3 linked regions of the Homo sapiens genome follow. The protein of the gene in region 3 purifies or fractionates together with the protein of the main gene of each other region. This does not show direct contact. Each region holds a gene or a part of one and is shown on either strand. Other genes may lie near its edges.

Evidence for each region.
Region 1: the proteins of GEMIN2 (region 3) and SMYD2 purify together in Homo sapiens (co-immunoprecipitation; one large-scale study listed by IntAct). This does not show direct contact.
Region 2: the proteins of GEMIN2 (region 3) and IQUB purify together in Homo sapiens (co-immunoprecipitation; one large-scale study listed by IntAct). This does not show direct contact.

What each region holds. Positions count from the first base shown.
Region 1 is NC_000001.11:214,315,551-214,319,205, reverse strand, and holds part of SMYD2 (N-lysine methyltransferase SMYD2), read right to left. Parts: intron 1,128-3,655; coding exon 1,067-1,127; intron 348-1,066; coding exon 223-347; intron 1-222. UniProt on the Homo sapiens protein: Protein-lysine N-methyltransferase that methylates both histones and non-histone proteins, including p53/TP53 and RB1. Specifically trimethylates histone H3 'Lys-4' (H3K4me3) in vivo. The activity requires interaction with HSP90alpha.
Region 2 is NC_000007.14:123,524,568-123,528,222, forward strand, and holds part of IQUB (IQ motif and ubiquitin-like domain-containing protein), read right to left. Parts: intron 1-3,655. UniProt on the Homo sapiens protein: Adapter protein that anchors the radial spoke 1 (RS1) complex to the A microtubule of outer doublet microtubules in axonemes. The triple radial spokes (RS1, RS2 and RS3) are required to modulate beating of the sperm flagellum.
Region 3 is NC_000014.9:39,127,691-39,131,345, reverse strand, and holds part of GEMIN2 (gem-associated protein 2), read right to left. Parts: intron 3,067-3,655; coding exon 2,998-3,066; intron 1-2,997. UniProt on the Homo sapiens protein: The SMN complex catalyzes the assembly of small nuclear ribonucleoproteins (snRNPs), the building blocks of the spliceosome, and thereby plays an important role in the splicing of cellular pre-mRNAs.

The sequences.
Region 1 (3,655 bases), on a different chromosome or scaffold from region 3:
TCCTACACTCCACCCATCAATGAGGGCCAGCAGAGGGGACCTTGATCTGCTCAAGGTCACTGAGCAAGGCTATGGCAACACACGGTCCAATTGGCTCAGAGCTTCGTTGTCAGGAAGATGCCATCATTCTATTTGCATTCATCTTCACTGAGTGCTTGCTAGGGAGAGGGCCTTGGAGAGGGAAAGGCCAGACTGAGTGTTACCTGCTGCCAGCGTCCTTACCTGTGCAAAGAGTACTACGAGGCTATCATTGTCAGGGAATCCGAGATGCTTGGAGTAAAAGTGATGGAGAGCAGCTATGTCACTCTGAATCAAATCCTTCTTCTCATTGTCTAACTTATCCAGATCTGTGGATAAATAATCCATTATTCACCCAGTAGAAAGCGTGGGATTTCTAGCTACATCCTATTTTTGCTGTAAATGATACAGAGGAAAGGAACGGGCGAAAAAAAAAAAACCCAAAACTAACATGTTGAACCCCCAGAGAACATTCTTCCCCATTACTTGGTTTAACTGACAAACCCTAAGGAAAGAAAGCAAGCCATTTCTTCCTTCTCTCCCTCTGATGACTAGAAGTCACTTGGGACGTGAGATTTCGACTGACTGTTAGCAATGAGGTCAGGGATGGGTAGCAATGACTCATAACCAGCCTCAGCCTAGTCAAGGGCCCCCCAATTGGCCCGGGAATCTGGGCCGTGGTCAAACAACTGGACAACCCCTGATTTCACGGCTTTCAGTAAGAACATCAGCTATTTAGAGGACGCAATTCAGCAAAGATCCAAAAGTATTCAGCATGCCAAGAGGGCCAGCAGGAGGTAGCTCAGGGTGCAATAATTCATTTTGGGAGCTCCTACCTCCTTTAATTATTTCCTAACAATCCTGTCAACTCAGAAGAAAAAAGCTAAAAGTGCTTTTCGAAACAGCACAAGAGTAAAAATAAAAACTAGTAATCAAAGAAATCACTACTCCTCTGAGCACAAACTAGCCCGTCCTCGCTTCAATCCTGCCCAACCCATGTGAAATCTGTGGCTGAGAGAACTGCGCGGCTGGTCACAGAAAGACTTACGTGATTCAAACTCCTTCACAGCTAACAATTTTTCCGAAGGTGTTCTCTCTGGGTGGATTTTCTAGCAATTGGGGAAGAAATCACACAGATACAGATTTTTTAACAACCAGTGTAATAAAGTGGCACTTTCACTTTTACATCAACATAAAGAAAAAGTAACAATTCTTAAGGAAGTAAAACAAGCTACTCAAGGACTCCACCACTAGGGCTCTCCACCAGCCAAATCCAAAGACTCTTCTAAAGCGCTTTTTTAAATGTCTACCGTGTACCTAACACCCTGATAATACTATGCACACAGTAGGCTCAGAAATACCTGTTACGGGAAAGAACAGGGCCGGAAAACAACTTTTTAGGGTCCTTACTTAAAAGGACTGGGTCTACAGACAAACCATCCTATTTATTATTTCTCCTTCTAAAAAGGAACAAAATCAAACCCCCCATCCATTTTACACTTTCTTTAAGCATAGGCTAAAATGATCTCAAATTCTGTGTTTCAAAAAGAACACTTTTGGTTGTATCTGTGAGCCCAGATTCACTTTAAACGCGTTGCTGGCTTTGTTCTAGACACCCCAAGAGGAGCTAACAATAGTAAACCCGCTAGGCTTTGAGAACATGAATAAACTTGGTGTTGACAAGAGTTCAAAGGCAGAGCTCAGGAGCTGGCCCAAGGCCATGTCTTTGTAATGTGGCTATTCAATTTGGGGATACAGGTGGTCTAGCAGGGCACGCTCACCTCCCTAGTTAACATGTTAAGCCTCCCCTTGGTAGTTTGGTAGCCTGTCTCCCCTAATCCTTTGCAAGCTACTAGAATACAAATGGTCTGTTTTTTTAATCATCAAGTCCTATAGAGATGAAAAGATGGGCAGGTAACTTTCATTTAATACACTATTAGTAGTAGTAGTAATTATAATAAAACTTGAATGAAGCTTGTATAAACTCATCTTTGCATTCAGACTACCCTCCTGGTGCCGAAATATTTCAATAGTTCTTTTTTGGAGCAGAAATCTTCCATTCACGGGATGCATTTTTATAAGATTTATAAGTCATCTCGCTTGGGAAAGCTTTTCATTCAGGAAAGTCTACCAGCCTCTTCTGAATTCTTAACATATCACTATAAATATCATCAATAATTCAGGGGAACAAAATAATAAAACACCAGCTTGGCCACCCAATCCTCCCAAGATGTGCGGAGATCCCATCTGATGACTTACTGACTCTGATACCTCACACCCAGTCATCCTATTCCCTCTGACTTATTCAGCCCAAATACTCTGCATAAATTTAAAAATAACTGTTATTAAGGATCCGAAAGTTAACCTCCTGCAGGGAAACAATTCTGATGTTTTGGTCTCACTCTACAGGCAACCCATGAATGGCCTTTGTTACTCTCGGCTGGCTGGCGAGGTAGCATTTCGGCAAGCACCTGACCCAAGCTGAACATAGCTGAAGGATGACCTCAGAGTTTTGAAATGTTCTACTTCTGTTTACACAGCCCAGGATCCTAACTTGGTCTGGGGACAGATACATGCTAATCATTTCCATCACATTTGGCTTAGATTAAAAAATAGAAAAATTTTAAGGGTGGAGGAGGGCTGGTAGGTATACAGGAGAAGTGGATGAAATTTCAGTTTGTTTTTTTTTTTCATTTTTAGAGACAGAGTCTCATTTACTTTGTTGCTCAGGCTGGATGGAGTATGGTGGCACAATCACAGCTCACTGCAGCCTTGAAGTTCCGGGTTCCAGTAATTCTCCTGCCTCAGCCTCCAGAATAGCTGGGACCACAGGTGTATACCACCACACCTGGGAAATTTTTTTAATTTTTAAAATTTATTATAGAGAATGGGTCTCACTTTGTTGCCAAGGCTGGTCTCGAACTCCTGGATTCAAACAATCCTTCTGCCTTGGCCTCCCAAAGTGCTAAGATTACAGGTATGAGCCACTATGCCCAGCCAAAATTTCAGCTTTAAAAGATTTATAGTCCAGAGGCCCTGCCACCAACTTCTCTGACAGCACTGAGGAGCAAGACCTCCACAGCCTGGACATATGCCTTCTAAGCCCCACACTGCCTATTTCATTGGATCACAAGGACAAGTTCTATGGCATTTTCCTGTCCTCTTTTTAGTTTGGCCCTTCGAAGATTAGGTGTCTAATTATTATGCAATCAGCAAGAATGAACCAGACCAGGCGGAGAACAGTCAGTACGGTGGCTAAAGCAATTTCATCTTGGATGCTGATATACCATGTTGATTTCTGGTTAACTCCTGCTCTGGGAATGCTTCTAAGATTTCTACTTTGTCTATGGCTACCTTAAATCCTGCCTTAGGTCAATACAATCTTGAGCACAAATCTTGCTCTCAGGCAGATTTGCATAGCATCCTTGCCTTTCCTTGTAACTGCTGTACACATTTCTTCCCTATGGTATATAAGCCCTGGCTCTGGTGGGTAATGGTGCAGGGATCCACCATCTTGTCTTGCTGCCGCCCAAGACATAGACATGGCTTCAGTTCATAAGTCCTAGTAAATGTTTCTAATAAACTGGATTTGTCAGCTTCTTTCTTCTGTCTCTCAGCTTCCTCACTCTTTGAGCGT
Region 2 (3,655 bases), on a different chromosome or scaffold from region 3:
TGAAATTGCTTATCAGCTTAAGGAGAGTTTGGGCTGAGACAATGGGGTTTTCTAGATATACAATCATGTCGTCTGCAAACAGGGACAATTTGACTTCCTCTTTTCCTAATTGAATAGCCTTTATTTCCTTCTCCTGCCTAATTGCCCTGGCCAGAACTTCCAACACTATGTTGAATAGGAGTGGTGAGAGAGGGCATCCCTGTCTTGTGCCAGTTTTCAAAGGGAATGCTTCCAGTTTTGGCCCATTCAGTATGATATTGGCTGTGGGTTTGTCATAGATAGCTCTTATTATTTTCAGATACGTCCCATCAATACCTAATTTATTGAGAGTTTTTAGCATGAAGTGTTGTTGAATTTTGTCAAAGGCCTTTTCTGCATCTATTGAGATAATCATGTGGTTTTTGTCTTTGGTTCTGTTTATATGCTGGATTACATTTATTGATTTGCGTATATTGAACCAGGCTTGTATCCCAGGGATGAAGCCCACTTGATCATGTTGGATAAGCTTTTTCATGTGCTGCTGGATTCGGTTTGCCAGTATTTTATTGAAGATTTTTGCATCAATGTTCATCAAGGATATTGGTCTAAAATTCTCTTTTTTGGTTGTGTCTCTGCCCAGCTTTGGTATCAGGATGATGCTGGCCTCATAAAATGAGTTAGGGAGGATTCCCTCTTTTTCTATTGATCGGAATAGTTTCAGAAGGAATGGTACCATTTCCTCCTTGTACCTCTGGTAGAATTCGGCTGTGAATCCATCTGGTCCTGGACTCTTTTTGGTTGGTAAGCTATTGATTATTGCCACAATTTCAGCTCCTGTTATTGGTCTATTCAGAGGTTCAACTTCTTCCTGGTTTAGTCTTGGGAGAGTGTATGTGTCCAGGAATTTATCCATTTCTTCTAGATTTTCTAGTTTATTTGCGTAGAGGTGTTTGTAGTATTCTCTGATGGTAGTTTGTATTTCTGTGGGATAGGTGGTGATATCCCCTTTATCATTTTTTATTGCGTCTATTTGATTCTTCTCTCTTTTTTTCTTTATTCGTCTTGCTAGCGGTCTATCAATTTTGTTCATCCTTTCAAAAAACCAGCTCCTGGATTCATTAATTTTTTGAAGGGTTTTTTGTGTCTCTGTTTCCTTCATTTCTGCTCTGATTTTAGTTATTTCTTGCCTTCTGCTAGCTTTTGAAAGTGTTTGCTCTTGCTTTTCTAGTTCTTTTAATTGTGATGTTAGGATGTCAATTTTGGATCTTTCCTGCTTTCTCTTGTGGGCATTTAGTGCTATAAATTTCCCTCTACACACTGCTTTGAATGCATCCCAGAGATGCTGGTATGTTGTGTCTTTGTTCTCGTTGGTTTCAAAGAACATCTTTATTTCTGCCTTCATTTTGTTATGTACCCAGTAGTCATTCAGGAGCATGTTGTTCAGTTTCCATGTAGTTAAGCGGTTTTGAGTGAGATTCTTAATCCTGAGTTCTAGTTTGATTGCACTGTGGTCTGAGAGATAGTTTGTTATAATTTCTGTTCTTTTACATTTGCTGAGGAGAGCTTTACTTCCAAGTATGTGGTCAATTTTGGAATAGGTGTGGTGTGGTGCTGAAAAAAATGTATATTCTGTTGATTTGGGGTGTAGAGTTCTGTAGATGTCTATTAAGTCCACTTGGTGCAGAGCTGAGTTCAATTCCTGGGTATCTTTGTTGACTTTCTGTCTCGTTGATCTGTCTAATGTTGACAGTGGAGTGTTAAAGTCTCCCATTATTAATGTGTGGGAGTCTAAGTCTCTTTGTAGGTCACTCAGGACTTGCTTTATGAATCTGGGTGCTCCTGTATTGGGTGCATATATATTTAGGTTAGCTCTTCTTGTTGAATTGATCCCTTTACCATTAAGTAATGGCCTTCTTTGTATCTTTTGATCTTTGTTGGTTTAAGGTCTGTTTTATCAGAGACTAGGATTGCAACCCCTGCCTTTTTTTGTTTTCCATTTGCTTGGTAGATCTTCCTCCATCCTTTTATTTTGAGCCTATGTGTGTCTCTGCACGTGAGATGGGTTTCCTGAATACAGCACACTGATGGGTCTTGACTCTTTATCCAATTTGCCAGTCTGTGTCTTTTAATTGGAGCATTTAGTCCATTTACATTTAAAGTTAATATTGTTATGTGTGAATTTGATCCTGTCATTATGATGTTAGCTGGTTATTTTGCTCATTAGTTGATGCAGTTTCTTCCTAGTCTCGATGGTCTTTACATTTTGGCGTGATTTTGCAGCGGCTGGTACCAGTTGTTCCTTTCCACGTTTAGCGCTTCTTCAGGCGCTCTTTTAGGGCAGGCCTGGTGGTGACAAAATCTCTCAGCATTTGCTTGTCTGTAAAGTATTTTATTTCTCCTTCACTTATGAAGCTTAGTTTGGCTGGATATGAAATTCTGGGTTGAAAATTCTTTTCTTTAAGAATGTTGAATATTGGCCTCCACTTTCTTCTGGCTTGTAGCCTTCATTTCATTCATTTCATCTTCCATCGCTGATACCCTTCCTTCCAGTTGATCACATCGGCTCCTGAGGCTTCTGCATTCTTCACGTAGTTCTCGAGCCTTGGTTTTCAGCTCCATCAGCTCCTTTAAGCACTTTTCTTTATTGGTTATTGTAGTTATACATTCTTCCAAATTTTTTTCAAAGTTTTCAACTTCTTTGCCTTTGGTTTGAATTTCCTCCTGTAGCTCGGAGTAATTTGATCGTCTGAAGCCTTCTTCTCTCAGCTCGTCAAAGTCATTCTCCATCCAGCTTTGTTCTGTTGCTGGTGAGGAACTGCGTTCCTCTGGAGGAGGAGAGGCACTCTGCTTTTTAGAGTTTCCAGTTTTTCTGCTCTGTTTTTTCCCCATCTTTGTGGTTTTATCTACTTTTGGTCTTTGATGATGGTGATGTACAGATGGGTTTTTGGTGTGGATGTCCTTTCTGTTTGTTAGTTTTCCTTCAAACAGACAGGACCCTCGGCTGCAGGTCTGTTGGAGCACCCGGCCGTGTGAGGTGTCAGTCTGCCCCTGCTGGGGGGTGCCTCCCAGTTAGGCTGCTCGGGGGTCAGGGGCCAGGGACCCACTTGAGGAGGCAGTCTGCCCGTTCTCAGATCTCCAGCTGCGTGCTGGGAGAACCACTGCTCTCTTCAAAGCTGTCAGACAGGGACATTTAAGTCTGCAGAGTTTACTGCTGTCTTTTTGTTTGTCTGTGCCCTGCCCCCAGAGGTGGAGCCTACAGAGGCAGGCAGGCCTCCTTGAGCTGTGGTGGGCTCCACCCAGTTGGAGCTTCCCAGCTGCTTTGTTTACCTAAGCAAGCCTGAGCAATGGCGGGCGCCCCTCCCCCAGCCTCGCTGCCGCCTTGCAGTTTGATCTCAGACTGCTGTGCTAGCAATTAGCGAGACTCCGTGGGCGTAGGACCCTCCGAGCCGGGTGGGGGATATAATCTCCTGGTCCGCCGTTTTTTAAGCCTGTCGGAAAAGCGCAGTATTCGGGTGGGAGTGACCCGATTTTCCAGGTGCCGTCTGTCACCACTTTCTTTGACTAGGAAAGGGAACTCCCTGACCCCTTGCGCTTCCCAAGTGAGGCAATGCCTCGCCCTGCTTCGGCTCGCGCACGGTGCACGCACCCACTGACCTGCGCCCACTGTCTGGCACTC
Region 3 (3,655 bases):
AAAATGTTCTTGTTTTTCCTATTCGTATGTACAACTTTCTTTTTTTTTGAGACAGAGTTTCACTCTTGTTGCCCAGGCTGGAGTGCAATGGCGCGATCTCGGCTCACTGCAACCTCTGCCTCCCGGGTTCAAGCAATTCTCCTGTCTCAGCATCCTGAGTACCTGGAATTACAGGCATGTACCACCACACCCGGCTAATTTTGTATTTTTAATAGAGACCGGGTTTCACCATGTTGTTCAGGCTGGTCTCGAACTCCTGACCTCAAGTGATCTGCCTGCCTTAGCCTCCCAAAGTGGTGAGATTACAGGCGTGAGCCACCATGCCCGGCTGTACAACCTTTTTTCAATACAATTTCATCAGTTGTAATATCATCTTGTAGCCATCTTTTTTATTTATAATACATAATAAAATGTTTACCATGTTGTTTTTGTCCTTTTTCTTTTTTTTTTCGAGATGGAGTCTCGTTCTGTCATCCAGGCTGGAGTGCAGTGGTGCCATCTCGGCTCACTGCAACCTCTGCCTCCCAGGTTCAAGCAATCCTCCTGCCTCAGCCTCCTGAGTAGCTGGGACAACAGGCGCCCGCCACCATGCTCAGCTAATTTTTGTATTTTTAGTAGAGATGGGGGTTTCACCATGTTGGCCAGGCTGGTGTCGAACTCCTGACCTCAAGTGATCCGCCCACCTCGGCCTCCCTAAGTGCTGGGATTACAGGAGTGAGCCACCCCACTCAGCCATCCCTTGTAGTTAAATGGGATTAACAAGGGAATGTTAAGTGTCTTGTTTAGAGTATTTAATAACATTCCCTTGTTTAATCTCATTTAACAACATGGGGAAAGTTTATTAAGTATTGCAAGTAAAATGGTGACAAAGGGTATGTATATTCATCAAGGTTTTTCAGATATGATCACCAGATTGTATCCTGGAAAGGTTATACCAAATTTGTATTTCCACCAGTAGTATATACAACTTTGTTTATTCTAAGCAACATATCACTTCGGGGAAACCTAAAAAATATTAGGACAAAATTTAAATAGCAATTTATACAACACACTAAATGGGTTCCTCAGGCAAACTCAAATCAATAGTTAAGACTTTTTCTTACAGAAAAAGATTCAAATCCAGGTTTCTTTTACAAATTGTGGAATTCTTTTTCTATAAAAAAAAATTATATGTTTCAACTTGACTCAAATTTTAAGGGATACATTTACTATGTAAAGCTAGCATTTAAATTAAATATTTAATTTAAATTAAATATTCTCTACACTTGTCCCAGCTACTCAGGAGGCTGAGGCAGGAGGATTGCTTGAACTTGGGAGGCAGAGGTTGCAGTGAGCCGAGATGGCACCACTGCACTGCAGCCTGGGTGACAGAGTGAGACTCCATCTCAAAAAAAAAAAAAAAAAAAAAAAACAAACTTGTCTGCAATGAGATAAGGAGTTTGTACCTTGTACCAGGATATACATCAACTCTTTCATTGACTTTTTTTCTCCAAGACTTTCTCAATGAAGGAAGTAGTATGTTGATTTACATTCTAGTGTTTCTTATTTGACTACAAACAAGTATAGTTCAGATTATACATATGTATATACACACACACACACATATACAAATATAAATATAAATATAAATACTGGCTGGGTGCAGTGGCTCACGCCTGTAATTCCAACACTTTGAGAGGTGGAGGCGGGCAGATCACCTGAGGTCATGAGTTCAAGACCAGTCTGGCCAACATGGAGAAAGCCTGTCTCTACAAAAATACAAAAATTAGCTGGGTGTGGTGGCAGGTGCCTGTAATCCCAGCTACTTGGGAGGCTGAGGCAGGAGAATCACTTGAAACCAGGAGGTGGAGGCTGCAGTGAGCCGAGATCGCGCTACTGCACTCCAGCCTGGGCAACAGAGGGAGATTCCATGTCAAAACAAACAAATAAATAAAAAATAAATAAATACCGTAGCATCACATCAAGTACAGTCATGCATCACTTAATGAAGGGAGATATATTCTGAGAAATGCATTGTTAGGTGATTTTTGACCCTGGATGAACATCATAGAGTATACTTACACAAACCTAGATGGTATAGTCTACTATACCTAGACTATATTGCATAGCCAATTGCTCCTAGGCTACAAACCTATATAGCACATTACTATACTGAATACTGTAGGCAACTGTAACATAATGGTAAACATTTGTGCATCCAAAAAAACCATATATTTATTTCTTAAGATAGGGTCTCACTCTGTCACTCAGGCTAGAGTGCAGTGCAGTGGCACAATCATGGCTCACTGCAGCCTCAACCTCCCTGGCCTTAGGTGATCCTCCTGCCTCAGCCCTCCCTAGTAGTTGGGATTACAGGCATGAGCCACTGTGCCTGGCCAGATCTAAACATATTTAAATACTGGAAAGGAGCCGGGCTCAGTGGCTCATGCTTGTAATCCAAACAGTTTGGGAGGCCAAGGTGGGAAGAACACTTGAGCCTAGGAGTCTGAGATCAGCCTGGGGAACATGGTGAGACCTCGTCTCTATTTAAAAAACACAAAAGGCCGCACACATGGTGGCTCATGCCTGTAATTCCCAGCATTTTGGGAGGGTGAGGAGGCAGGATCATTTGGACTCAGTTCAAGACCAGCCTGGACAACACAGTGAGACCTTGTCTCTAATAAAAAAAACAAAAAACAAAAAACAAAAAAAACTGGGCGTGGCTGCATGCGCCTGTAGTCCCAGCTACTCAGGAGATTGAGGCAGGAGGATTGCTTGAGCTGGGGAGATCAAGGTTGCAGTGAGCTATGATTGTAATACTGCACCCCAGCCTGGGTAACAGAGCGAGACCTTGTCTCAAAAAAAAAAAAAAAAAAAAAAAGAAAAGAAAAAAAGAAAATGTGCAGTAAAAATACAGTATTATAATCCTATAGGAGCACCATTGTATATGTGGCCCACAGTTGACCCAAAACGTCTAATTTTTGCCTACATTATGAAAAGAAAAACATGCAATACTACCAATTCTGGAGTAAAGTCTCTTTCTCCAAACCAATTACTCAGATATTCCAAGACACTAGTTACTGTTGCCTAAAAAAAAAAAGAGGGGGTGGAGAAGAGTTGTATTAATAATAAAACATGAATTCAACATGAGTTTCATTAAGTTTATTTAGAAAGCAACTCTGATGTTAAAAATGGCCTCATTCTTTAAACTTTCAAAGAAAGCTAATTTGTTTGACTCTAATTAGTTTGATTAGGCGGCTTATCCAATGAGGCTTTTTTTTTTTTTTTTTTTTTTTTTTGAGATAGAGTCTCACTCTGTTGCCCAGGCTGGAGCGCACTGGTGCGATCTTGGCTCACTGCAACCTCCGCCTCCCGGGTTCAAGCAATTCTCCTGCCTCAGCCCCCTGAGTAGCTGAGATTACATGCGTGCACCACCACGTCCGGCTAATTTTTGTATTTTTAGTAGAGACAGGGTTTCTGCATGTTGGTCAGGCTGGTCGAACTCTCGACCTCAGGTGATCCGCCCTCCTCGGCCTCCCAAAGTGCTGCGATCACAGGTGTGAGGCACCGCGCCTAGCCCCAGTGAGGCTTTTAAAACAAATATTTTCACACTTTCAAATATCAACTAACACCTTGGTTTAAATCCTAGGATTTAGTTTGTAACTATTAATAATTT